7 linked regions of the Homo sapiens genome follow. The protein of the gene in region 4 purifies or fractionates together with the protein of the main gene of each other region. This does not show direct contact. Each region holds a gene or a part of one and is shown on either strand. Other genes may lie near its edges.

Region 1 (3,968 bases), on a different chromosome or scaffold from region 4:
ACAAAAACGACTCTTCCATCCGGGAGACTTTGGGATTTCCGGGCTACAGGACTCCACCCCCCACAACCTAGTCAGTCCCACCACCAACGTTCGGCCTGGGGCACTTCCCAAATGCCTAAGGACGCAGGGGGTTGCGCTAGTAAGTTGAAGGCCCAGGGCACCCCCTTTCTAGGGTTGACGACCCGTAAAGACTCCTCATTGGCCCCGCCCTCTACGCCCAGTATCCTATTTTTATTTTTTTTTTTAATTATTGGTTTCTTAAATAGAGCCAGGGTATCGCCATGTTGCCAGGCTCGTCTTGAACTCCTGGCCTCAAGCAATCCTCCCCACTCGACCTCTCAAAGTATCGAGATTACAGGCGTGAGCCACTGTGCCCGGCCGTCCCCATGCCCAGTCTCCTATTAAATCCCGCTGGAGGTGCCTGGCTCCCTGGGGCTGGGTGGAAAGGGTAGTGTAGGGGAAGTTGCCCTCCGTCCCAGCCCAGTTTAGGAGCCGGCGACCTCCTCTCTCCTTCGGCTGCTCCTCGGACGTTCTTGGCTCAGGGCAGCGAAAACTGTCGAAGACCTGCGGGCCAGGGACTGCTGAGCACCTCCATCCAAGGTCCCCAATGCTTTTCTCCATCTACCCTTTAGAGTGGGTGTCACGATTGCCACTGGAAAGGCTAAGTGACTTGCCCTAGGTCACATAATTTAAATGGCAGAACTGGAGTTTCTCACAGAACCTGTCCCGACTTAAAGCCCTTTGCTTAGGCCCCATTTAACTTCCTCAAACCTTAACTTAGGAGAGTGCAGGCGCTGGGGACCGCAGAGTCATTTTTGTTGCCCAGCGGTGCCGTCGCGTGCAGCTTTGGGCCCAGGTGCAGAACCCAACCGCGCATCCCCAGCGCGCACTTCGTCCACCCGGCTGCCAGAGCGGACACATCGGTCCGGCCTCGGTTTCCCCCTTCTGAACAAAAGCGCGCACAGTGTGCTCCCCGCACCAAGCCGGGACTGTGGCCCCCTTTCCCCGCTTCCCGGACCCTCCTCTGGGGACAGACGGACCGCGCGCGTCCTTGCCGCGGCGGCGGGTCGGGTGGGTGGGGTTTGCTGCACTGCTGCTGCGGCGGCGGCGGCGCCAGTGGGTCCTCCGGTGACTCTGGGGCGGGGCTGTGGGGAGGGCACGGACTGACAGACGGACTCCGGCGGAATGGGGGGTGTGGCTGCTCCGCCAGGGTCCCCAGGGTGGGAGAGCGGCTCCGCGGCCACCGATGCCCGGACCCCCTCTGTCTTCTGCTAGACATGCTCTTCCTCTCGGTGAGTTGTTTTGCTGTCGTCGCGGGCCGGATTCGTGGCCTTAGTCACGCCCCGGGGGAGGAGGAAGGAGCCGGGCCGCTTCGATCTGTGTGGCCTGGATAGGGCAGGGCAAAGGGGAACTGACCCGCTTCGCTCCCGGGCCTCCTCCTTTTGGGGCATGTTGATCCGCGGCTGCGCTCCATGTTCCAGTTTCATGCAGGCTCTTGGGAAAGCTGGTGCTGCTGCTGCCTGATTCCCGCCGACAGACCTTGGGACCGGGGCCAACACTGGCAGCTGGAGATGGCGGACACGAGATCCGTGCACGAGACTAGGTTTGAGGCGGCCGTGAAGGTGATCCAGAGTTTGCCGAAGAATGGTACGTGCGCTGGGCCCCGGCTGTAGACGCCTCCTGCAGAGAGCCCCAAAGCCCCCTTTCACTTTCTGGTTCTAGTGTTGTTTATTTAGCCTTTTTTTCTGTGTAGGAGCCATGTAGTGGAAGGGGAGCTATTGAATATGAATTAATTACCTTTTGATCTTCCAAACCGGAGAAAAATCTAATATCCAGATTTTAAGTACTTCATATTGTTGAAAACAAAAGTCTTGTCACTTAATGACTGCGGATTTGGGTGTGTTAAAAAATAAATCCGGGCCGGGCGCGGTGGCTCAAGCCTGTAATCCCAACACTTTGGGAGGCCGAGGTGGATGGATCACCTGAGGTCAGGAGTTCAAGACCAGCCTGACCAATATGGTGAAACCCCGTCTCTACTAAAAAATACGAAAATTAGCCAGGCTTCGTGGCGTGCGCCTGTAGTCCCAGCTACTCGGGAGGCTGAGACAGGGAAATTGCTTGAACCCGGGAGGCAGAGGTTGCAGTGACCCGATATCGTGCCACTGCACTCCAGCCTGGGCGACAGAGCCAGACTCCATCTCAAACAAACAAACAAACAAACAAACAAAAATCTAGGCTGGGGATGCCTAATGCCACACACTCATAGGGTCTACCAGCTTAAGCGTTTTGAAAACTTTTGATATGAAGGGACAGAAAAGAAAGAATAACTATAGTCAATTGTGAAGTAATTTCTATTTTAATAAATATATATTTTCTACCTTTTTATTTGCTATTCCATTGTATAATGTTCTTTTTTATACTCATATTGGACCTTCTTTGCAGCTGGTGAGAAAAAAGTCATTCCAGTGGCTGATCTCCTTCTTGTATTTAATGTGCTATTTCTCTGGCTGCTTTTTAGATTTCTTTTCTATCTTCGGTTTTCAGCAATTTGACTAGTAGATGTGGTTTTTCTTCATATTAACCCTGTTCACGATTTGCAGAGCTTTTTGAATTTGTAATTTTATGTCATAGACCAATGTGAAGTTTTTGGCCATTAAATATTTTTCTCTGTTCTAAATGCAGAGTCTTAGAAGCAAGACGTACTTTTCAATTCATATCTTTCTACATTATATGAATTATATTTCACAATAAACATATTTATTTCTTTAGAGATGGAGTTCCGCTCTTGTTGCCCAGGCTGAAGTGCAATGGTACAATCTCAGCTCACCTCAACCCCCACCTCCCAGGTTCAAGCGATTCTTCTGCCTCAGCTTACCCAGCAGCTGGGATTACACCCGTGCGTCACCATGCCCGGCTAATTTTGTATTTTTAGTAGAGACGGGGTTTCTCCATGTTGGTCAGGCTGGTATTGAACTCCCGACCTCAGGTGATCTGCCCTCCTGGGCCACCCAAAGTGCTGGGATTACAGGCATGAGCCACCGCGCCCGGCCCAATAAACATATTTAGAAAGTAATTATAGGTGCTACTACTGTGCCACAGTTGTAAAACTAACTGAATACAACAATAATATGTTACTATAGTATTTAATATCATGATTTCTGTTTTCATTAATTATCATTAATTATCAATAATTTCAATAATTATAGGTAACAAATATTCAACACATCATTCAATAAAAATTCATTAAATGCAGATTCAGAAATTTTTAAAAACAAATATACACAAAATAGTGTTCCATTTGTAATTTCTTTCCTTCTATGGTGTTGTCTGAACCTTTTGTAATTTCAAACATTCTATTGGAGGAGGGCATATGGGGGACTGAAAGATAAGAAAGAACAAATAAAATATAAAAAAAAGCATGAACTTATTTAGGTATTGATTTTTTAAGTCCCTAATTATTAGTGTTTATAGAAAGGTATGATTCTAAGAGTTTTATGTAAGTAGTATGTTTATACTTTCTTCTAAAGCACACGTTTTTATAGTTTTTTGAAAATTGGTAAAGCTAGACTGATGTCTCTAGGCCACTATGCCTGTTGACATTATGTACCACTTATTAGGAAACCTGTATAAAGTACAGTTTGTATGTACATAACATTTAAGAAAGTATTGCAAAGTTAACATACCCTATCGGCCGGGTGCGGTGGCTCACGCCTGTAATCCCAGCACTGTGGGAGGCCGAGGCAGGCTGATGCTGAGGCGGGCTGATCACGGGGCTGGCGGATCACAAGGTCAGGAGATTGAGACCATCCTGGCTAATACGGTGAAACCCCGTCTCTACTAAAAATACAAAAAATTAGCCAGGCGTGGTCGTGGGCGCCTGTAGTCCCACCTACTCGGGAGGCTGAGGCAGGAGAATGGCGTGAACCCGGGAGGCGGAGCTTGCAGTGAGCCTAGATCACACCCCAGCC
Region 2 (3,940 bases), on a different chromosome or scaffold from region 4:
AGACAGCGGTTGCCACAGCCAGCAGGAAGATAGAGGAGGGGCTACTGGCATCCAGTGGGTAGAGGCGGGGGATGTTGCTCAACACCCAGTGGTGCACAAGACACCCCCCAGCAGAAAATGATCCAGCCTCACCGTCAGTAGTGTCGCAGTTGGGAAACCCCGACTGTCCTCTGCTAAGTGTGTACTGAAAGAGGATCCTGAAGGAAGGGGCAGGTTCCCTTCGCATTGCCCAGACAGGAAATACAGACGGGGAACAGGAGCAGGGAATCTGCCTGGCTGTACCCCAGATTCCTCATCTGTGCAATGGGAGTGATGATGGTAGCACCTACGCGATGGGAGTGTGGTGCGAAGGAGCGTTAAGTGGGTGCCAGCTCTTACTACTGGCAGGAGCCCAGGGCTAGGGCCCAGCAAAGGGGTGGACACTGAGCGCCCCTTCCCAGCCACCCCTTGCGCCGGGCCCGGCATCCTCCTGAGTGCGGCTGGGAAAACCCAGGAGGCCCCGCGGCCTGGCCCCCAAGCAGGCCTGGCCTCGGCCGCCCAGCGCCAGGCCTTATGAATGACGCCGGCGGCGGCCGGGCGACCTCTGACCCGCGCGCCGGCCGCGCCCCTCCCCCGCTGGCAGGTGGACAGCGGCTGCGCCGGGCAGGCCGCGGCGCCAACTCCGGCTGGCCGACAGCCGCTGCCGCACTGAGCGGGGGCGGGGGACTGCGGCGCGCGCGGGGCCGGCCGGGCGCCCGCCGGGGCCGCCTCCTGAGCCTCGGAGCGCTGCGCGGCCGCCAGCCAGCCTCCGCCGCCCCGCCCCGCCGGCCCGGGCCCGCAGACTGCGTCTCCGCCCCGCCCTCTCACCCCCGGATTGACACTGAGCGTTCTGCTGGGGGGCTTGGCGGACCCGGCACCTCCGCCAATCGGCGGCCTCGCAGGGCGGACCCCGGGCCCAGTCCAGCGTCTCGGCCAATCGGACGCGTCTGCCCGCCCAGCTGCGGCCTCGCGAGCGAGTGAATGGCCGAGAGTCCGCGGTGCGTGTCCCGAGGCTGAGAGCCTATAGTGGCGCGGGAAGGTCGCGGGAGGGCCAATGGGAGGCGGCGCTGAGCCGTCAGTCAGGGCGGCCTAGGCCAATGAGCGGCGGGCTGCGGGGGCGTCACAGACAGCGGCAGAGATCTTGGGCTGAGGTTCCCGGGCGGGCGGGCGCGGAGAGACGCGGGAAGCAGGGGCTGGGCGGGGGTCGCGGCGCCGCAGCTAGCGCAGCCAGCCCGAGGGCCGCCGCCGCCGCCGCCCAGCGCGCTCCGGGGCCGCCGGCCGCAGCCAGCACCCGCCGCGCCGCAGCTCCGGGACCGGCCCCGGCCGCCGCCGCCGCGATGGGCAACGCCGCCGCCGCCAAGAAGGGCAGCGAGCAGGAGAGCGGTGAGTGCCCGGGCTGTGACCCCGATCTTGGCCCTGCGCTGCCAGCCCTGGCCTTGTCCATCATCGCCTGGCCCCTCCCCCTACGGGGCCCCTCATCCTCTCTGCCTACCCCCCAGCGCCCCTTGCCCCGGCCTGTCCAAGGCTGGGGCCCGCGGGCCCGCAGAGTACCCCCTGTAGGGGTCCCCTTCCCCTAGGGCCGCCCCATGCTGCAAAGACCGTGCTCCCCCCCAGCTGTCACTGCCAACCATGGCACGTATGACCGCTGGGGCCCCACATGGGCCCCTGTCACCAGCCTACCCCCTCCTTTCCTGGCCCCTCTTCCCAGATTCTAATCCCCCCACTTCCTCACTCACCTCTCTCACCTATGGGATCCTCTGCCTGACCCCGACCCAGGTTTCTACCAGTTTGGGAATGCGATGAGGTCTGTCTGCCTCCACCGCGCAGGGACCTTGGCCACTTGCTGACCACACCCCTCCCCCCTCCAGCCCCCGCCATCTTTCTCCTGCCCTTTCCCTCTTCACCTTAGCACAGCCCCCCCTTCCAAACCCATCCTGCCCCCTGAACATTTCCCAGAGCCACCTCCAGCATTATTTTTTTCTTCTGTGTCACTTGGCATGGGGGACAGGATCTTTCTGGGTCCCTCTGCCTCTCTCATCCTGTCACTCTGTCATTCTGCTGCTCTGCTTGTGCTCCGTCCTCCAAGCAAGCGTCTGTCCCTGGCTGGGGTAGCAGACTGTTTATGAACGTAGAGAATTGCTTCAGTGCTTCCAAAGCCAAGTTTGAGCTGGTCTTGTTGGGATTCATTGCATCCTCTTTCCTGCGTTGGGGTAAGGGGGTGGTGGCAGAGCCCCCTCTCATTTCCTGTCTTGCAGTGAGCTCTAGGCTCCATGGAGGGCCCCTCAATAAATGGTCGTTTCACAACTGAGGCTCCGTCATTCACCCAGTCCCTGGGGCTTCTTCCACCACTCCTGGCTTGGGATGAAAAGTGTCTGGGTTTAGCGAGGTTCATTCGGTTCTAACTGAGATGGTCAGAAAGAGCACTGGGGAGGAGGAGGCAGTCAAAGAGAGTAATGGGTGACGTCTAGTGATTTGCTTTGACGTCTAGTGATTCTGATCATTCCCAGGGCTCAGCCAGAGAGAGACCTGTTTCACCCACTTGCCCACACATTAGGTTGGTCTTTTCCAGCCAGCCAGAGAAAGAGATTCTCTATCTGGAAATACCATCAGAAATGGTCTTGAACCCCATTCCCAATTTTTACAGCTCTTAAATTGTTGTCACTCCAGTCTGAAAGCTGGAAGGCAGCTGGGATCCCCTGTCCACTTACCCAGAAATAGTCGGAACTATTGGTCGAAAAGGAAGGCCAGTTTTTGGTCTCAAACCCCAGCATCTGAGTTTCCTGAATGCCCCCTCCCAGAAAGGTATGAAAGCCAGGGAACTTTATTCCCATACGGATTCAAATAGCAGAACTCAGAGTCACAGAGCGATCATGAAGAGGCCTGACATGTCACCAATGGGTGGGGGCTGGGGAGGGAAATGCCTGTAGCTGAGTGCCTGATGACAGAGGAGCAGGTGGGTAGTGTCCAAAAAAGGTCTGGGCATGAGCTTGGAGGGGACTTGGCCGGGGGGGGAGGAGTCAGGCCCCCAGCAGGTGAGGCCAGCTGGGAGGTGGAAGGTAGAGGCAGGCAGCTATATATTGCGGTAGCTCAGTTGAAAGTTGGGGAGATGACAGTCCTGGAAAACCTTCAAGGCTATCAGACACATGTGGTGGGGGGTGGAAAGCCACACAAGAAAAAGGATCCCAAGAAAAAGATCAGAGGCTCTGGAAGGAACCACTGATTCTCTCAGAGCACAGGTCAGACACCCAGGAATGAATGATCATGGTAAAATAGAGCTACTATTTATTGGGCATCTAGGCTGTGCCACAGGCTAAATGGCCAGGCGGATAGAGATACCTACTCTGGTGACTTTCATAACGGGCTGTTATCCAAATTTTCCAAAGGAGCCCTCTGGTAGAAATGACATCCATGACATAGATGATGTCACAGAGGCAGGATTCACATCCAGATCCATCTACCAGCAAACTTCTTGGACCCCAGAATTCCCCGACTTTGACATTTTTCAGCAGCCTCCCAGATTTTTACTCTATCATATTTTCTTAATTTAAAATAATAAAAGTTTTACTCACTTGTGTTCAGATGTAAACTTGGAGCTCATTCTAAACAATAATATAAATGAAATCATGGGATTGCCATGCCAGTTATATTTTCTCTGATACGCATTAAATACAGTGTAACTAGATAAATGAAACATCCCGAAAATCATGTCATGTTCTGCCAATGGGACTATGTCACACGTTGAGAAACGCCCGAAGCTGTACTTCCTCCCAGAGGCTCCCAGAGAAGGAAATAAGATGAGGAAGGAAGTCCCTCTTTGCTTTGAGGCGCTCTGATTCTGAGAGGATGGAGTTAGACAAAATTTGCCCTCTTAGAAGGGTGGGGCAGGGGCAGGGGCAGTAGCCAGGCCAGCCTGCAGGGGGCA
Region 3 (4,043 bases), on a different chromosome or scaffold from region 4:
GTAACTATTTCTTTTTCCACACAGAATTTGATATGGATTACAACAACTATACATGATAAATGGACAAAATCTTACATAATAAAACTGTGTCCCCAGCTTACCCCAATTCATATGCTGAAGTCCTAATACCCACCACCTAAGAATGTGACTGTATTTGGAGACAAGGCCTTTAAAGAGGTAATTAAGATAAAATGAGGTCATATGGGCATGCCCTAATCCAGTATGACTGGTGTCCTTATAAGAGGAGATTAGGACACTGACAGGTACAGAAGGAAGAACATGGAGACACAGGGAGATGGCCATCTACGAGTCAAGCAAAGGCGTCAAAAGAAACAACTCTGACAATGCCTTGATTTCAGATCTCTAGCCTTCAGAACAGTGAGAGAATAAATTTACGTTGCTTAAACCACCCACTCCATGACACTTTGTCTTGTCCTGATAAACTGATACACGTGATAATAAAATTGATCTGCTTCAAATTAGGCAATCTACTAGTTACAATGAGCTGGGAATCACCAGCCACTTCAGAACCCAGTCCTGCAATGCTCTTCTCTTGTGCTTTTAATACATTTTTTAAAATCCAAAAGGTACAGGAATGAGCATGCCAAGAAACTTTAGTCCTTTGCTCAAGATTATGTAAGACAAGGCAAAGGGGGAAACAAAACTCAGATTCCTAATCCTCTTTTCAATTAAACCAAGGCCTCGGAGAAAGAAACCAAGAAGAACGAACGAACATAGTTCAGAAAGAAACATAACTAGTGTGCATTCATAATTGGATCACTATGGTACTATAGTAAATATCTGCTAACATACACAGAGACCTGTGAAACAGGGGTACTTTTAGAGAGGCATCAGAGTGAGGCAGTTAAGAGCATGGCCGGGCCCGGTGGCTCACGCCTGTAATCCCACCACTTTGAGAAGCCAAGGTGGGCGGATCACGAGGTCAGGAGATAGAGACCATCCTGGCTAACACGGTGAAACCCCGTCTCTACTAAAACTACAAAAAATTAGCCAGGCGTGGTGGCACGCACCTGTGGTCCCAGTTACACAGGAGGCTGAGGCAGGAGAATCGCTTGAACCCAGAAGGCGGAAGTAGCAGTGAGCCGAGATTGCGCCACTGCACTTCAGACTGGGCGACAGAGTGAGACTCCGTCTCAAAAAAAAAAAAAGAACATGGACTTTGGACCAGACCCCATAGACATTAAAATCCTAGCTCTGTCTCTTACTTGCTATGACTTCTCCCAGCAAATCACTACCCTCTGTATCTCAGTTTTATCATCTGTAAAACAGACATATAGGGATATCTACCACACAGGATTGTTGTGAGGTTCAAATGAGTTCAAATGAGGTTTTTATGGTTCAAAAATGGTCAAATATCAGCAATTTCATATGCTTCAGCAGGACACATGGAAAGCACTTAGAACAGTGCCTGGCACCCGGTAAGTGCAATATGAGTGTAATAATCATTACTATTACAGTCTCAGCACACTACGCTAGGGTGAATCCAAAGCCCATCCCAACCACCTATTTGCCTTCTGCAATGTTTGTGCACCTCAAACATCCCCAAGCTCAAACAACCCCTAAGAGTGCTGCCCAGGCAGTCAATCCCTTCTCTTCACCTCTTGGTTGCCCTGCACTTCCACACCCTGAACACTTCCTTCTTTAGAGCTCATTCTGCTGCAGGAAGTCAGACGTCTCTGTGAAATAGAAGTAACCACACTGAACCTCAGAGAAGCATGACTCCTTCGGTCTCTAGTCCCTACTTTTCTCCAGATGTGGTAGAGTGGCAAAAGACCCGGGATGTCCACAAGGGAAATCCAGGAGTTGAGATTTTCTAGGATCAGCCACCATCCTGATCTTGAACTAAAGCAATTCCAGGTACCACTAGGATTTGGTGCTGATATTCACAAAACAACTGAGGCCTGAAAAGGGCACAGACTGGCAGGGTTCAGTGACCCGGAGTAAAGAAGGAAACACTTCCCAACTACTCTGGACCTCAGTCTCCCCATCTCGAAAATATCCTCTTATTTCCTTACCTACCTCCCAATGTCAGGTTCTGAAGAGCTGAGGAGGATGTGAAGACCATTAGGAAGACACTGAACATCAGTAATAAAAGATGCCATCCTACAGTGGGGACACCACCAACAGCATCCTCTGAAATGCTACCCTCCACCATCCCCTCCCTTGCTAGACCCTCAACCTTTCCTCGCATGCTTTCAGCCTTAGGCGCAAAGCTTTTCCCCTCCACAGATCCCCCCACCGCACCCCTCAAGTGGGACTTCAGACCCTTAGAAAGTCCACCCGGCCTTCCTCTTGGCCAGTTCTCGATCCACCCCCTTAAAGAGATCCCTCACAGATTCTCACCCTGCTTCAGCATTCGCCCCCACCTCCGTGAGTCCCTGCTTGGATAGCGTTCCCCCGAGTGGCCCGGCCTCAGCAGGTACTCTCCCTAACTTGTCCCCACGTTCCTCAGCACAGTCTCACCACAGCGAGTGCTCCCTCTAACCGGTCCCAAGTCTAACCTCCTTAGCAGATGCTCCCCTCAGCCGGACCCTCACCCACCAGACGTCCCCCCCCTCACTCAGCAGGTGCCCCATCGGCTGGGTCGCTTAGCTCCGGGGACTCCCACACAGGTGTATCCCCTCAACCAGTTCCCGCCTTTTCTTCCCCTGACCCCATGCCCGTCCTCTTAGCCAGTGGCCCCTCACCGGCGCGGCGGGTTCCTCAGCTGTACCGTCTCCATGGCGCTGCCAGCAGCCGCCCAGACCCGCTCACTGCTCCATCCTCCCGCGGACCTCCTGAGCCCGCCCCGCAGACCCTCCCACACTTCCGCTTTCCGCCCCTACCGGAAGCGGCGCGCGGCGCGGGAGCGGGGCGGAGCCACGGCCCTGATCACGTGGTTCGGGCGTGAGTCTTGTGGCGCGGTGGGGCGCGGACCCGGAACCGCCAAGTGGTGAAGGCGCCTCCAGGCGGTGCCCGCTGGTCTCTAGAGTGTCAGTGGCGCTGTCTTCCTGCGTTACCGGAGCGCACAAAATACTCGGTCCCCAGGCCGAGAACGCACCTCTACCTGGGTCCTGGGTCCCATTTCACAGACTGAGATGCGTGAAGCGCCTCCTTTAGAAGAGCTGACAATTCTTAGCAAACCAAGTTTTGCGTGATTTTGGGGAGGCGGCGCTGCCCCAGGAACGCCTGGAGGTATTTGTGGTTTTCTGCCGCTTACCTGGTTGAACTCTGGTCCCAACGGGCCCCCTGCACATTTTCTCCTACAATGCATCAACGCGCAAATTGCCCCACTGTCTTTCTTAAAGGCCTCCCCTTTAAGTCAGTTTGCAGACATAAAAATAAGCAACATTAATTAAGCATTTGCCGTGTACTTGTCTTCATATATTATCTCATTTAATCCCCTGTGTCAAGCCGATAAGGTCATCCCCGTTTTTATTTATTTAATGATTTAACACAGTCCCTAAACGTTTTCAGTGCTTTACCTCATTTAATACTCCTAACAACCTAGACGGTATTATTATTATTCCTACTTCATAAGGCCAGAGAGGTGAAGTATCTAGCCCAAGGTCACATAGCTTAGAGTATAGGTTTGGGGATTTAAATCCAGTTTGGTCTGATTTCAGGGCCTGCACCACCAAACTGGACAGCCATGGGTGTGTAACCTCTTTTTGGGCCTGAGAAACAGACCTTTCTCTCCACTCAGAGCTCCGGCTTCAGCTATTGTGCTTCCGAATGCCACTACCATCAGTAAGTATTAGGAAAATGGCAGATTCTACCCAATTGACCCATGGGGAAAGTTATAGGAGAAAACTTAACCAGAGCAACCTCTCACTGTTTTTAATTGCCTTGCTTTTCCCAAGGATATGCCATCTACAGAACTTAACACCTGAGCACCCACCCTTCAGGGCCACCCATGGGCCCAAAACGGGATAAAGGAGCCATTCCCTGACATAGGAGGAAAACATTTGCTGAGAAGCTACTGTGTGCCAGACACAATCTTGGACTTTCACTTAATCCTCAAAACAGCCCTAGGAAGAAGT
Region 4 (3,500 bases):
CTAAGTAATAAGCATGTTGAAAACGACATTATACTTGAAAACCACCTTTTGCTTTGAGAAATACATGATGGACAAAATAAATTTCTCAGGTAGGTAGGTACACTGGGTGTCAGCAAAATGGCAATTAATACTGAAGCCCACATTTCTCAAATCGCCTTTTTGCGATGACAGCTCATTTATTCACAAGTCAAAAATCTTTAGTGGTATTCCAGCAATCCTAACTTGACAAGCAAAGCTTTTATGCAATTTTTTTTAAGCAATACCTAACAGTGACTCCTGCAGTTTAAAGAAAAATAAGTATTTTAAGTTCCCCTGTATTGCTGAAGTCAAGTCTTAATTAAATCTACTTCATATCTGCCTTTGGCATTTAAAAACCTACATAAAGCAACTGTCTGGCCGATGATTGGAGCTTGAAAAAAACTACCATGCCAGATCTCCACCCCAGACCAATTAGGTCAGTATCTCTGGGGGTGCTATTCAAGCAACAATTATCTTTTATGTTCCTAAGCTCATCATGAGTTAAGGTACTGCTATAGTTGAATATCACTACTACAAAAGTTATCTGAATAACTTCCTATATACTCTCTTTCAAGATGGGTGTTATACATAGCAACAACTGGAAAACAAGAAACTGAGTTTTAAAACAAGAAATGTGGCAACAGGAGGATATGCATAACTAGAAGGGAATTGTCAAGAGGCCAGGCCAATCAAATGTTACATTATAAAATGTCCATAACCTTAAGAAAGTTAACTATAAAAACAAAGCAAAATGCTTTTAGTCACATTTATACTTGGTTTTCAATAAACCACAGAAATTAAGCTGGAAAAAAATAGGATACAACTTATAATTAGTGATTATGCTTAAAGAACATTAATATTACAGGGAAATGAATGAAATGTTCCTAGCAATTGATGCTGCTGAAAGGCAGAATTTGGAATTTTTTATATTTTCCAAAAATTGCCTGAAGTGCACACACTGTGTCAGAAGGGCAAGACAAACTTTCTTTTTCCTTAGTGATATATGTTTATACTTCTTTGCACCAACCCACGAGCGGCTGGGCATTCATTCCCAAGATGCCACTGCTTACGCGAAGAAGCGTGGTGGTAGTCTACCAAAAGTGGGGCTATGAAACGTGGCATGAAAATCAGCTGTTCTCACTTCCTACTAAAAAATAGTTAACTCCATCTCACTAAGCAAGAGACTATCTGCCATCAGAATTCAAGTCCCAGTGATTAGCTATTAATGCTTAACAGGATATAAATGCACAAACCACACAATCTGTTGAAATTTTTTTTGTATTGTGAAAAGGAAAAGGACACTTCACATTTTTAAAGTTTATTCATGAATGGTTTAATTTCCCTTTAAAGCTAGAAAATAAAGATCATTTACCTTCTGATCTTCGTTTTTCCAAATGGTAATAAGCATTGATCCTTCCCTCGAATAAAGGTGAAATTTTTAAAATCTCAGTGAATAGGAATGTGCAAAGCTCTAAGAAAACTATTACTTGAATGTCTCTAAAGTGGTAGAAGATCACAAGTTGGGAATACCCTCAAAAACTATATTTTTACCCTACTGTTAAAACTTGTTTTCAAAGTGGTGTAATCTGAAAGATTACAGTTCAAAAGTAATTCCCATACCAAATAATATCAACTTTAGGTGAACATCTAAGTATTTAAGAGTATTATTTTTCTTGGCTGGGTGCGGCAGCTCACACCTGTAATCCCAGCACTTTGGGAGGCCGAGGCAGGCGGATTCAGGAGTTTGAGCCCAGCCTGACCAACATGGTGAAACCTTGTCTCTACTAAAAATACAAAAATTAGCCGGGCTTGTTGGCTCACACCTGTAATCCCAGCTACTCAGGCGGCTGAGCCATGAGAATCACTTGAACCCAGGAGGCGGAAGCTGCAGTGAGGTGAGATCACACCACTGCCCTCCAGCCTGGGCAACAAAGCAAGACTCTGTCTCAAAAAAAAAAAGAAAGAATTACTTTTCTTTGATCGGAATTTCTGAATTTCATACATTTTTCTTCCAAGTGTCATTTTTTTTTAAGGGAACATACCACACACTCAGAACATAATGACTTAGCTTCTTGTAAATATAAGAATGGGGGAAGTTAAGGTACATTAGTTATAGAACGAAGGAAGCTAGTGCATTCAGTGTCACATATGAACTCAAGGCCTTAGTTACTTGATTGTAATTTCAGTATTAGCAACAGTGTATTTCCCTCATGCTTACATATACAAGTAAGCAGGCAGACAAAGCAAAAACTTCTAAACATATAAGGAATGAAGACAAACAATTTAATCTCTATATTATCATATTATCAGTCAATTAATACAGTTGGACTTTCAAACTATAACTGTTGGTAGTAAAATAATCTGATCACATTTCATACAGCAATTAAAAATAACAGAAACAGAGTCTCACCTATACAATCAGAGCATCTCCTGATATGAACAACAGTTAAGCCCACATACATTTTAAAGATGCTACCCAGACTACAATCTATCTCAAAAGCAACCATGGCATAATGCATTTTATAAAATGCCTACCTAAAAATACATTGTATTTTGTAATGTTTATTACCAATGTGGGAGGCATTTCTAGCCTAAACACTATAACCAAACTATTCAACAGTAAGCCGGTAGTAGTCTTACAATAAGAAATTTCACATATACTTGTTATTATAAATAGCATTTTATGTTCATTATTTCAGCCATCTCTCAAACTAAGACAATTTTCAACAGTTACCAGAAGACACTGAGCTAGAGTCAACAGACCAGATATCTAGTTCCAGCTCTGCCTCTACCTACCTGTGAGACACGGGGAAAGTTCTCTTAACCTTCGTAAGGCCTCAGATTTCTCAACCATAGAACAAAGGGGCTGAACAAAATGAATTCTAAAGAGCATTCCCATAAAACGGGATTTGGCTAAATTTTCAAGAACTTAATTTCTTTAAAAAAAGATAGCTATGAGATACCAAACTTGGTATTTACCACCAATAATATTGATTATATAAGAGCTTTAAGCCAAGGAATTACTGATTCTGCATTTATGGGGTGAAAATATAAGACTATTTTTAGCATGCTTTTCCAGTTACCAGAAAAGGGGAGAGGGGGATTTTTACAAAGACAGTAAAGCATACAGCAATGGCAGTAAAGCATGCAGCATAGCATGCTAGTAATGGATAGGCATTACTTGTGTTTCCTTTTAGGAACTTTTGCACACAAGCAAGAGGTTTTATAAAAGATACCACAGCGCCCAATAACACAATATATGTGTGATCTGACAAATTCAAAACACAGTTGAAATGAAAAGGCAACCAAAATACTTCAGAGTACTTCATTCTTCTATAAAATGTGTACACAGACCTGGGCCTAAAATACTTCACTGCACCACATCCAGTTCTAAAATCCAATTTCCTTTTCAGGTAGAGCGCATCTTTTAAAAAAAGAGCCAACACACCTATGTTTAAGAATAAAAATTCACTTGTACTAGA
Region 5 (3,500 bases), on a different chromosome or scaffold from region 4:
CCCATTGTTCCCCCCAGGGCCTGGATGGAGCCGGGGAGCTGGGGGCTGAGGCATGCGCAGTCCACGCCCTCTTCCTTATCCTGCACAGCGGCAACATCCTGGACTCAGGCCCTGGAGACGCCAACTCCAAGCAGGCGGATGTGCAGACGCTGAGCTCCGCCTTCGAGGCCGTCACCCGCATCCACTTCCCTGAGGCCTTGGGCCACGTGGCGCTGCGACTGGTGCCCTGTCCACCCATCTGCGCCGCCGCCTATGCCCTTGTCTCCAAGTACTAGCCACGGGTGGAAGGGCAGGGAACTCGTAGGATCAGGCCAGGGAGCGGGGCAGGGAGCGGGGAAGGGGTCAGGAAGCCAGACACCTGGGTCGGTCACTGGCATGGCTGGACCTGTTCTGGAGAATGGCTCCATTTCAGTTGCCTCTTGGGGCTAACGCTCCCCACAGAGGACCCACAGAGCCAGGGCCTGCCAGCAGGCCCAGGGGACTTGGATGGCAGGAGTGGGTCTGGAAGCCCCTCACCCACGCACATTTCCCCCTCCTACAGCCTGAGCCCTTACAGCCACGATGGGGACAGCCTGTCTCGCTCCCAAGACCACATTCCACTGGCTGCCCTGCCACTGCTGGCCACCTCATCCTCCCGCTACCAGGGCGCCGTGGCCACCGTCATTGCCCGCACCAACCAGGCCTACTCAGCCTTCCTGCGCTCACCTGAGGGTGCCGGCTTCTGTGGGCAGGTCAGCGGTTAGGGACAGTCCATCTGCTGCCCTCCACTGCAGCCCCCACTGTAGTCTGGCCTGGGTGAGGACAAGGCCTCTCCTGATGGTGCCCCTGCTCCCACCCAGGTCGCACTGATTGGAGATGGTGTTGGTGGCATCCTGGGCTTTGATGCACTCTGCCACAGTGCTAACGCGGGCACCGGGAGTCGGGGCAGCAGCCGCCGTGGGAGCATGGTCAGTATAGCCAAACCCGGCCTCCTCAGGAGCGGAAAGGCCCTCTCTGGCTCTAGGTCTCTGCCCCCTGGAATGCCACCCCTCTGCCAGCAGGCAGGCCCCCTGCTGCCCTGCCAGTTCATGTCTTCTCTGGAATTCTGCTCTGCCCAACCCCCAAGCCTCGCTCCTCACTTCTAAGTAAGTAGAATTCGAATGGTCCCCAGGCCTAAGAATGTTTCTGTCTCCTGTTCCATCCAGAACAATGAGCTGCTCTCTCCGGAGTTTGGCCCAGTGCGGGACCCCCTGGCAGATGGTGTGGAAGGCCTGGGTCGGGGCAGCCCAGAACCCTCGGCCTTGCCTCCCCAGCGCATCCCCAGCGACATGGCCAGTCCTGAGCCCGAGGGCTCTCAGAACAGGTGACGTCCCTGCCCCATCACCCCTACCCTGGGCACATGATGGACTACAGAGGCAGCAGCACTGAGCACCCCTCCTCCCCCACAGCCTTCAGGCAGCCCCCGCAACCACCTCCTCCTGGGAGCCCCGGCGGGCAAGCACGGCCTTCTGCCCACCCGCTGCCAGTTCCGAGGCACCTGACGGCCCCAGCAGCACTGCCCGCCTTGACTTCAAGGTCTCTGGCTTCTTCCTCTTCGGCTCCCCACTGGGCCTGGTGCTGGCTCTGCGCAAAACTGTGATGCCCGCCCTGGAGGGTGAGTCCTAGGGGCTGCGGGGGCGCCTCTAGTCTCTGTCTGCCCCTTCCTTCCCCACCTCCTCTGGCCTTCCCTCTCATCCGAGGCATGAGCAACTTCCCCACTGTACTAATTCAAAGGCCTGGCTACAGAAGGGGAACCTGAGGCCCAGAAAGAAGGGACTCGCCAAGGGTGAGTCTCCCAAAGCCACTGGGAGGAGCTTCACACCCGTGGGATGTTCTGCACTAGAAGGGGTCAATCAGACACCACAGCAGCAAATCGAAGCCGCTGCCCTCTTCTCAGCCTTTTTTTTTTTTTTTGAGACAGAGTCTCGCTCTGTCACCCAGACTAGAGTGTCAGTGGCCTGATCTTGCTCACTGCAACCTCCTGGGTTCAAGTGATTCTCCTACCTCAGCATCCCAAGTAACTGGGATTACAGGCACCTGCCACCATGCCCAGCTAATTTTTGTATTTTTTTTAGTAGAGACAGGGTTTTGCCATGTTGGCCAGGCTGGTCTCGAACTCCTGACCTCAGGTAATCCACCCACCTCTGCCTCCCACAGTGCTGGGATTCCAGGAATGAGCCACTGAACCCAGCTAATTTTTGTATTTTTAATGGAGACGGGGTTTCACCATGTTGGCCAGACTGGTCTCGAACTCCTGACCTCAAGTGATCCATCTGCTTCTGCCTCCCGCAGTACTGGGATTCCAGGCATGAGCCACGGTGCCCAGCCCCTGTCTCACTTTAAGCAGGGCCCTACTGACTTCCCAGGGAGTGCAGTTTGGGAAGTGCTGGCTCGGGGTCACACCAGACATCAGGGTGCTGCTCCCACACCCCCTACCTCCCAGAGTGCCCAGCTGAAACCCTGACCCCACAATCTTTCTCTGTCTTCTGGGTACCAGCAGCCCAGATGCGCCCAGCCTGTGAACAGATCTACAACCTCTTCCACGCGGCTGACCCCTGCGCCTCACGCCTCGAGCCCCTGCTGGCCCCGAAGTTCCAGGCCATCGCCCCACTGACCGTGCCCCGCTACCAGAAGTTCCCCCTGGGAGATGGCTCATCCCTGCTGCTGGGTACGCCCCCAAACAAGATAAAGGGGAGAAGGAGGAGGGCACACACAGGAAGGGAGGAGGTAGCAGAAGACATGAGGAGGCTCCCAGACGATGGAAAACCTCTCAGGCCACCACTCCCAGGACCAGGCGCTCCTTCCCCCTGGGGGGGTCTGGATCCCCAGGACCCTCTGACCTCCTGGGCCTAGAAGTTGGGTGGGGGTGGTTAGCCAAGCTAGAGAGGGTGCCCCCTGGCAGCATGATGCTGGTGTGCTGCCATACAAGCAGCCAGCATGTGTGCGCTGCTGCATCTGTGTGGGGTGTGCTGCAGACATTTATTGCGGGGCATGCCCAGGTATGTATGGGCCAAGCGGGCCTGTGTTGGGCACAGGTGTGCAGCGTTTGGGGCGGTGGCAACAGGCATTCTGGCAGGAGTGCAGCTGGCCACTGGGCTGAGAGGAGAGAATGCCACAGTGCAGCCTCAGCCAGGACCTGACCAGAGGGGCCACAGGAAGATGGCAGAGGTGCGGGGAGCCCTGGGTGAGAAGACAGGAGAGCCACCTGGCCGGCCCCTGCTGACCTTGCCCTCCTTCCCCCAGCCGACACTCTGCAGACGCACTCCAGCCTCTTTCTGGAGGAGCTGGAGATGCTGGTGCCCTCAACACCCACCTCTACTAGCGGTGCCTTCTGGAAGGGCAGTGAGTTGGCCACTGACCCCCCGGCCCAGCCAGCCGCCCCCAGCACCACCAGTGAGGTGGTTAAGAGTAAGTCAGCCAGCCTAGGCAGTCCAGCCTGGGGGTGGGGGAGGCCCGTATTCCACCTCCGAAGCCCAGCTGAG
Region 6 (3,500 bases), on a different chromosome or scaffold from region 4:
TGCTCCATTTCATACCTTGACAATTGTCAGTGTGATTGCAAACTGGCTTGTTTGTGTTTCTTCTCTTTCCAGGAGTGGCTGTAAGGTGAAGAAGCATGAAACTCAGTCTCTCGCCCTGGATGCATGTTCTCGGGTGAGTCTGTGCCCATCTCCAGAATGTCTCTGAGACCAGGGGTCCTCCAGTGGGAGTTTGCATCCCCCTGGCGGGTGGTTCAAAAGGACTTTCCAATGGGTACCTGAGTACTCAGCTTTAAGAAGCCAATTTCCAGATCCTTACTGTCCCTGAAGAGAAGGCCCCTGAAGACAAGGGAACCCTTTCACAATGACTCTTTTTTTTTTTTGGTAAAATTCCCACTTTAAATGCTACAAAGATGCATCACCACAGGGTGTGAAAGTCTCCAGGGCACCGAAGGGAAGATCTGAAATACTGGTGTAGGTTCTAATAAGATAATTGACTCTAATAACTGGATGGTATTTTTCTTAAGTCAGATGGTTTTCTAATTCATTGCTTTCAACAATAGAGGAAAACCTGAGTTGTCAGCTGATAGGTCTAAAAATAATGTTTGATGGTAGATTTTTTTGGGCACATAACTTGGAAAGGGGTTCAAAGAATTGAAAGGCACTTATGTTACAGAACTACTTTCTGTTTCATCTATTGTTTATATAAATAAGGTTTCTTAATGATTATATTGATAAAAATAGAAACCAGGAATAAAATTGATGTTGACCTTTGTTACATTCTAGCAATAAATAATATCCATCCATGACCGTATAAACTAATTGCAAAACAAAGCGAAGCCCAGGCCCATCTGATTGCAATGAGATCCTTTTGTTCTTTTTAAAACTTTCTCAGTATACTTATTACAGAAATACATTCATTGGTTAATAGAGTTCAATTTAACATAACTTTTCCTCTACAATTTGGATCAGAAACTTGGTATATGGTGTAAGATGTAAAAAAGGGGTGTGATGGGGGAAATTTACAATCTGAGTTATTTTTCATCTGTTAACAAATGTGTAACATTCTCCCTCAGATTTTGCTAAAGTAGGCAGCAAGAACTATGAGAAATTTATCTTTGGTTTTCTTTAAAAAACAAAAACAAAAACCCAAAACCCATATATTTAGTGCACTGTAAAAGTTTTTAAGAATTAGTGCAATAAAACATTTTGTAATTGATATAACAACTTACTTTTGTGTCTGATAATACTTATCAAAACTTGCAATATTTTGAAAATAAGTTGTGCATTAATAAATGTGATAAGTCTCCAGCAGAAAAAATTTTAAGACTTAAAGAAAAAAGTTTCACAGAGACATTGGATAGAGACTTTTAAAAAGACTTTCAACCATGCAGATGTTTTTCATTTGGATAGTTTCTTGATGGAAGTGGGATGGAAATACAGATTTAGAGAGGAAAAGGAATAACATAAATTTCTGACTTATTCAGGAACTTGTTCATTTAAATTTACATATGGTATCAAATCACTAAGGTAACTAGATAGCATTAAGTAAATTCAATATTTAGAATATTCCAGATATTACATTCTTTGCAATTATTTAAACTTATGCCAAAAAGTTTTTAGATGTCACTTGAAAATGCAATGGGGGACATAGATTTTCAAAAAAAAATTAGGTATATGAGCAAAAAAATTGAAAACCATTGTCTTAAACCACTGAAACTGCTTGCTTATAAACTTAACCTAGAGAAGATCATTTTTTAAAACCTCAGACTCAAGTTACAGAAACTAGGTTCTATAAAACAGCATCTCACAATTGAAAGACTCCAACTTCCTCCTTGCTTTGTACCCAGGTCTGTGGTTAACCTCTCACATATCTGTATGGAGTTGTGTCTACTTTGTTCCATTCATGGGATGTCACTTTTCCCCATTGCTTGCCCTCCTAAAGGGTAGCATCTTCTCTGTTGTGTTTCTCAGGATGAAGGGGCAGTGATCTCCCAGATTTCAGACATTTCTAATAGGGATGGCCATGCTACTGATGAGGAGAAACTGGCATCCACGTCATGTGGTCAGAAATCAGCTGGTGCCGAGGTGAAAGGTGAGCCAGAGGAAGACCTGGAGTACTTTGAATGTTCCAATGTTCCTGTGTCTACCATAAATCATGCGTTTTCATCCTCAGAAGCAGGTATGGAAGCATATCTTCATCTTTCTAATGTACATAAGCATGGAAATGCCTGAAAGCCTAATAAAGCAGGAGGAGCCTTACAGAGATTAAAGAATTGGGTCACTTGAAGGATAGATTTAGGATGCTGACCTATGCTTTGCTTCTTTACCTGGAAAAGGGACACAAAGTGCTTATTGAAGTACTAGGAACGTAGAGATACTTGTGACAAGTTGTATAGGAGATGCTGATGTATGTGAGACTGCTTGAATTTCTTTATAATTTTATGTGAATATGGCCATATCTTAAAGTATAGTGGTGTGTTAGTTCATTTGCGTTGCTGTAAAGGAATACCTGAGAATGGCTAATTTATAGGAAAAAGAGGTTTATTTGGTTCATGGTTCTGCAGACTGTAGAATAAGCATGGCACCAGTGCCTGCTTCTGGTGAGGGACTCAGGAAGCTTCCAATCATGGTGGAAGGCAAGGGGGAGCAAGTGTGTCACATGGCGAGAGGTGGGAGGAAGAGGGGGCGGGGAGGATGCCAGGCTATTTTTAACAAAGATTTCACAGAAACTAACAGCAAGAAGTCGCTCATTACCACAAGGAGGGCACCAAGCTATTCATGAGGGATCCGCTCCTATGACCCAGCCACCTCCCATTAGGCCTCACTTCCAACTGTTGATCAGGTTTCAACATGAGATTTAGGGGGCAAATATTTAAACTATATCAAATGGCCTATAAATATGTCATATGTTTGACTTTTTTGTGATTGTTATACTCATTGTTTAACTTAGAGAAATAACAACTGACATGTATGGTGCCTTACCATGTACAGGCATTGTTTTAAGTGCTTTGCATATACTCATTCATAGCAAGGTGTTACCCTTTTCTCACTTCTTCAGAGAAACAAAGTAAGTCAAAGAAGTTAAGTGACTTGATTAAAGTCACTTGGCTAGGGTAGGACAGAAAAGTGGTATCTTTTTCCTCACCACAAGGTTCATGGCTGAGACATCTCTAACAAAAGATCAACAAGAGAAAAGTGTACAAATATATTTAATATAAGTTTTACATGACATTAGAGCCTCCAGAAATGAAGACCCAAAGGAACAGGGAAAACTGTACTTTTATAGATAGTTGTGCAGAAGTATAATTGGAGGACAGAAGGGTGTGATCTGTGGTAATAAACCAGGGGAACTTAGCAAGTCCTGTTTGTTCCAATTCCTCTTGGTGTCTGTGTCTTTCAGGATAAGGACATTGTTTTTCTCTGTGTACAGGGAGGACCCCTCTTGTAATGAGGTCTTATGAACTATTTTCAGGGGAAGGTCTGAGGGGTTGCTTTATGGCCTGCTTCAGGAAAGGGGGCAGGAGAGGGGCCGAGAGACC
Region 7 (3,500 bases), on a different chromosome or scaffold from region 4:
TCAGCTCACTGCAACCTCTGCTTCCCGGGTTCAAGCGATTCTTCTGCCTCAGCCTCCTGAGTAGCTGGGGTTACAGGTGTGCACCACCACGCCCAGCTAGTTTTTTGTTTGTTTGTTTGTTTGTTTGTTTGTTTGAGACTGAGTTTTGCTCTTCTTGCCCAGGCTGGAGCGCAGTGGCCCCATCTTGGCTCACTGCCACCTCCACCTCCCAGGTTCAAGCCGGTTCTCCTGCTTCAGCCTCTTGAGTAGCTGGGATTACAGGTGCGTGCCACCACACCCAGCTGATTTTTGTGTTTTTTAGTAGAGATGGGGTTTCACCATATTGGCCAGGCTGGTCTCAAACTCCCGACCTCAGGTGATCCACCCATCTCGGCCTTCCAAAGTGCTGGGATTACAGGCGTGAGCCACCGTGCCCAGCAAGAAAACATTCTTAACTTTGTGGGAGGTAAAAAGATGCAATGATTCTCAGTCTGGGGTCTAAGATTTTTGCTTAGCAAATGGTCCATGGGTTGAAAAAGGTAGAGAAAATGTGGCTTAAAGCCCTAAGTCTGAGAGTGACCTGTCCACCTCCCAGGTTCTGGGTCCTCTCCTGGGCTGGCTGGCCAGAGATGTTTCCGCTCGCAGGGCCCCTGGTAGGCAGAGGGTCTGTGGGTGTGGGGCTGCCTGCTGGCGGGCAGATGCAGAGGCCTGGGGCCTGATTCCAGGCCTGGGGTTCCAGAGGCAAGCTTTGCTCCTGCCTCCTCCCCCATGGACGCTCTTCTTGAGTGCATTTCTGCATGTTCCCGTGTGCACGTTCTCTTATCTGACTTGGTCATCTGTCTCTTAGCTCTGTGGAGGGGCCCTCTGGTATGTGTGTCCCTGTCCTTCTGGGGCGTGGATGGTGCCTGGGACCCAGCTGGCAACCAGTTGAAGACGTTCTCCTTGGAAGCTCTTGGCCCTGAGGACTTTGCCTGGGGCATTGGCCCTGCCATGGCGTTCCGGAGGGCCGAGGGCACGTCTATGATCCAGGCCCTGGCCATGACGGTGGCCGAGATCCCCGTGTTCCTGTACACGACGTTTGGGCAGGTAAGGATCAGGGTGGGTTGTACCTCTGGTCTATGAAACACTTCCATGCTCAGCCAAGGGCTCCTCCGTGTCCAGGAACGCTGAGCCCTCGTTCTTGCTTTGCCAAACCTCTGGTGTCTCCTCTTTGGACTGGGTTTGTTGTCTGAGGCTTCAGGCCTGTTCTTTAGCCTGAGACTATACGAACTCTTTTTTTTTTAATTAATTAAAAAAATTGTATTGGCCGGGTGCGATGGCTCACGCCTGTAATCCCAGCACTTTGGGAGGCCGGGACGGGCGGATCACCTGAGGTCAGGAGTTCAAGACCAGCCTGGCCAACATGGTGAAACCCTGTCTCTACTAAAAATACAAAAATTAGGCGGGTAGGCTGGGCACAGTGGCTCATGCCTGTAATCCCAGCACTCTGGGAAGCTGAAGCAGGTGGATCACCTGAAGTCAGGAGTTCAAGACCAGCCTGACCAATATGGTGAAACGCTATCTCTACCAAAAGTACAAAAATTAGCCAAGCATGGTGGTGTGCACCTGTAGTCCCAGCTACTTGGGAGGCTGAGACAGAATTGCTTGAACCCAGGAGGCGGAGGTTGCAATGAGCTGAGATCATGCCACTACACTCCAGCCTGGGCGACAGAGCGAGACTCCGCCTCAAAAAAAAAAAAATTAGCTGGGCATGGTGGCAGGTGCCTGTAATCCCAGCTACTTGGGAGGCTGAGGCGGGAGGATCACTTGAACCCAGGAAGCGGAGGTTGCAGTGAGTCGAGATCGCACCACTGCACTCCAGCCTGGGCAACAGGGTAAGACTCCGTCTCAAAAAAAAAAAAGTTTTTCGTAATAGAAATAGGGCCTTGCCATTTTGCCCAGGCTGGTCTTGAACTCTTGGGCTCAAGCCATCCACCTACCTTGGCCTCCTAAAGTGCTGGGTTTATAGGCATGAGCCACTGCACCTGGTCCTATATGAACTCTTGACCTCAGTTACTCAGTCTGTAAAAGGGGTCAGTGCCCTCCCTGACAACTCACATGTTTGTGGCTGACTGGGATCTTGACCGAAGATCTGCCTTGTGGGGTACAGTCCCATCTGAGGGGCTCCCAGGCCTGGGGGGCAGAGGGTGAGGTGCAGCAGTAGGAATTGTTCAGATGGGGTGGCAGGTGAGTGAGTGTCATCATCTTTGAGGCATCACTGAGAAATGGGGGTCAGCAGATCTGGGTTTCATGTCTGCCTCTGTCACCTTGAGTATATGTCTTCATGTGGGTGAACCTCAGGTTCCTCGTCTGGAAATGACAGGGACTCAGATGGGTACCCCAGGCTAGGTCCTAGTGCAGTGCCGGGCACAGCTGGTGCTTGTTCACTGCGGCTTGTGTGCTCATGACTGAGGGTGCTGGCCCCTAGACCTCACCTTCTCGGCACTGGCATCTTGCCATCTTTATGTTTTTGTGGCCTGTGTTTCAGGGAGGCTGGTCAACTTCCCCGTCTAGGGTGGCTGCCTCTCAGTCTCTCATCTGGTCGGCAGATGTGCCGGAGAGCCGGTGTGTGTCCCGTCCCTGAGGTGCTCTGGGGCGGTCCTGCTGCCTTGGACCTTCCCCAGGGAGGTGTAACCGGCAGCGTCTCCTCTTCCCTGCAGTCTGCATTCTCCCAGCTACGGTTGACGCCAGGCCTGCGGAAAGTCCTCTTTGCCACGGCCCTGGGGACTGTGGCCCTGGCCCTGGCTGCCCACCAGCTGAAGAGGCGACGGAGGAGGAAGAAGCAGGTTGGTCCCGAGATGGGAGGGGAGCAGCTGGGCACGGTGCCCCTCCCTATCCTCTTGGCCAGGAAGGTCCCTTCAGTGAAGAAAGGTAGGTGTGAGGTGGTGGGCATAGGCCTGACCTGAGGTCACATCCTGGGGTCATATCCCAGCTGGGTCACTCTCTACTTGGGGATATTGGGCCAGTGTCTTCCTGTCTCAGAGCCAAGGTCTCCTGATCTGTGAGCGGGATGACAGTAGCGTCCCTCCCTCCAGTCACTGTACTGGAGGGTGATGTGGTTGGATGCGCATGCTCCATTGGTGGAGGTGGTTTTGGTTGTTCTCATTAGCTGAGGACCCTTTGGGAGCACCTTGGTCAGAGGGGGTCGGGGATGTGGCTCCTGGGTCCAGAGAGGGATGTTCCCCAGGCTGAGGAGCAGGAAGAGCCATGTGGTTCTTGAATGATGCAGTATTCCTCCCATTCCCTTCTCTCTTAAAAATTGAGGTTTAGGCCGGGCGCGGTGGCTCACGCCTGTAATCCCAGCTCCTTGGGAAGCCGAGGCGGGCAGATCACAAGGTTAGGAGATCGAGGCCATCCTGAATAACACGGTGAAACCCCGTCTCTACTAAAAATACAAAAAATTAGCCGGGCATGGTGACGGGCACCTGTAATCCCAGCTACTCAGGAGGCTGAGGCAGGAGAATGGCGTGAACCCAGGAGGC

The links.
Region 1: the proteins of VAPA (region 4) and ACBD5 purify together in Homo sapiens (co-immunoprecipitation; 5 studies listed by BioGRID and IntAct, with this or other methods). This does not show direct contact.
Region 2: the proteins of VAPA (region 4) and PRKACA purify together in Homo sapiens (affinity purification with mass spectrometry; 4 studies listed by BioGRID and IntAct, with this or other methods). This does not show direct contact.
Region 3: the proteins of VAPA (region 4) and STK4 purify together in Homo sapiens (affinity purification with mass spectrometry; 4 studies listed by BioGRID and IntAct, with this or other methods). This does not show direct contact.
Region 5: the proteins of VAPA (region 4) and PITPNM1 purify together in Homo sapiens (co-immunoprecipitation; 5 studies listed by BioGRID and IntAct, with this or other methods). This does not show direct contact.
Region 6: the proteins of VAPA (region 4) and TACC1 purify together in Homo sapiens (co-immunoprecipitation; 5 studies listed by BioGRID and IntAct, with this or other methods). This does not show direct contact.
Region 7: the proteins of VAPA (region 4) and MIGA2 purify together in Homo sapiens (co-immunoprecipitation; 4 studies listed by BioGRID and IntAct, with this or other methods). This does not show direct contact.

The regions. Positions count from the first base shown.
Region 1 is NC_000010.11:27,237,998-27,241,965, reverse strand, and holds the start of ACBD5 (acyl-CoA-binding domain-containing protein 5), read left to right. Parts: upstream 1-1,168; 5' UTR 1,169-1,246; coding exon of another isoform or gene 1,247-1,277; coding exon 1,278-1,292; exon of another isoform or gene 1,293-1,472; coding exon of another isoform or gene 1,473-1,481; coding exon 1,482-1,647; intron 1,648-3,968. UniProt on the Homo sapiens protein: Acyl-CoA binding protein which acts as the peroxisome receptor for pexophagy but is dispensable for aggrephagy and nonselective autophagy. Binds medium- and long-chain acyl-CoA esters.
Region 2 is NC_000019.10:14,114,963-14,118,902, reverse strand, and holds the start of PRKACA (cAMP-dependent protein kinase catalytic subunit alpha), read left to right. Parts: upstream 1-1,140; 5' UTR 1,141-1,355; coding exon 1,356-1,401; intron 1,402-3,940.
Region 3 is NC_000020.11:44,965,269-44,969,311, reverse strand, and holds the start of STK4 (serine/threonine-protein kinase 4), read right to left. Parts: upstream 2,801-4,043; 5' UTR 2,744-2,800; coding exon 2,709-2,743; exon of another isoform or gene 1-2,708. UniProt on the Homo sapiens protein: Stress-activated, pro-apoptotic kinase which, following caspase-cleavage, enters the nucleus and induces chromatin condensation followed by internucleosomal DNA fragmentation.
Region 4 is NC_000018.10:9,955,516-9,959,015, reverse strand, and holds part of VAPA (vesicle-associated membrane protein-associated protein A), read right to left. Parts: 3' UTR 1-3,500. UniProt on the Homo sapiens protein: Endoplasmic reticulum (ER)-anchored protein that mediates the formation of contact sites between the ER and endosomes via interaction with FFAT motif-containing proteins such as STARD3 or WDR44.
Region 5 is NC_000011.10:67,495,364-67,498,863, reverse strand, and holds part of PITPNM1 (membrane-associated phosphatidylinositol transfer protein 1), read left to right. Parts: intron 1-17; coding exon 18-268; intron 269-541; coding exon 542-731; intron 732-839; coding exon 840-947; intron 948-1,184; coding exon 1,185-1,342; intron 1,343-1,427; coding exon 1,428-1,633; intron 1,634-1,752; coding exon of another isoform or gene 1,753-1,804; intron 1,805-2,515; coding exon 2,516-2,686; intron 2,687-3,261; coding exon 3,262-3,426; intron 3,427-3,500. UniProt on the Homo sapiens protein: Catalyzes the transfer of phosphatidylinositol (PI) between membranes. Binds PI, phosphatidylcholine (PC) and phosphatidic acid (PA) with the binding affinity order of PI > PA > PC. Regulates RHOA activity, and plays a role in cytoskeleton remodeling.
Region 6 is NC_000008.11:38,825,236-38,828,735, forward strand, and holds part of TACC1 (transforming acidic coiled-coil-containing protein 1), read left to right. Parts: intron 1-72; coding exon 73-133; intron 134-1,932; coding exon 1,933-2,140; coding exon of another isoform or gene 2,141-2,193; exon of another isoform or gene 2,194-3,335; intron 3,336-3,500. UniProt on the Homo sapiens protein: Involved in transcription regulation induced by nuclear receptors, including in T3 thyroid hormone and all-trans retinoic acid pathways. Might promote the nuclear localization of the receptors.
Region 7 is NC_000009.12:129,039,626-129,043,125, forward strand, and holds part of MIGA2 (mitoguardin 2), read left to right. Parts: intron 1-826; coding exon of another isoform or gene 827-969; coding exon 970-1,065; intron 1,066-2,678; coding exon 2,679-2,889; intron 2,890-3,500. UniProt on the Homo sapiens protein: Regulator of mitochondrial fusion: acts by forming homo- and heterodimers at the mitochondrial outer membrane and facilitating the formation of PLD6/MitoPLD dimers. May act by regulating phospholipid metabolism via PLD6/MitoPLD.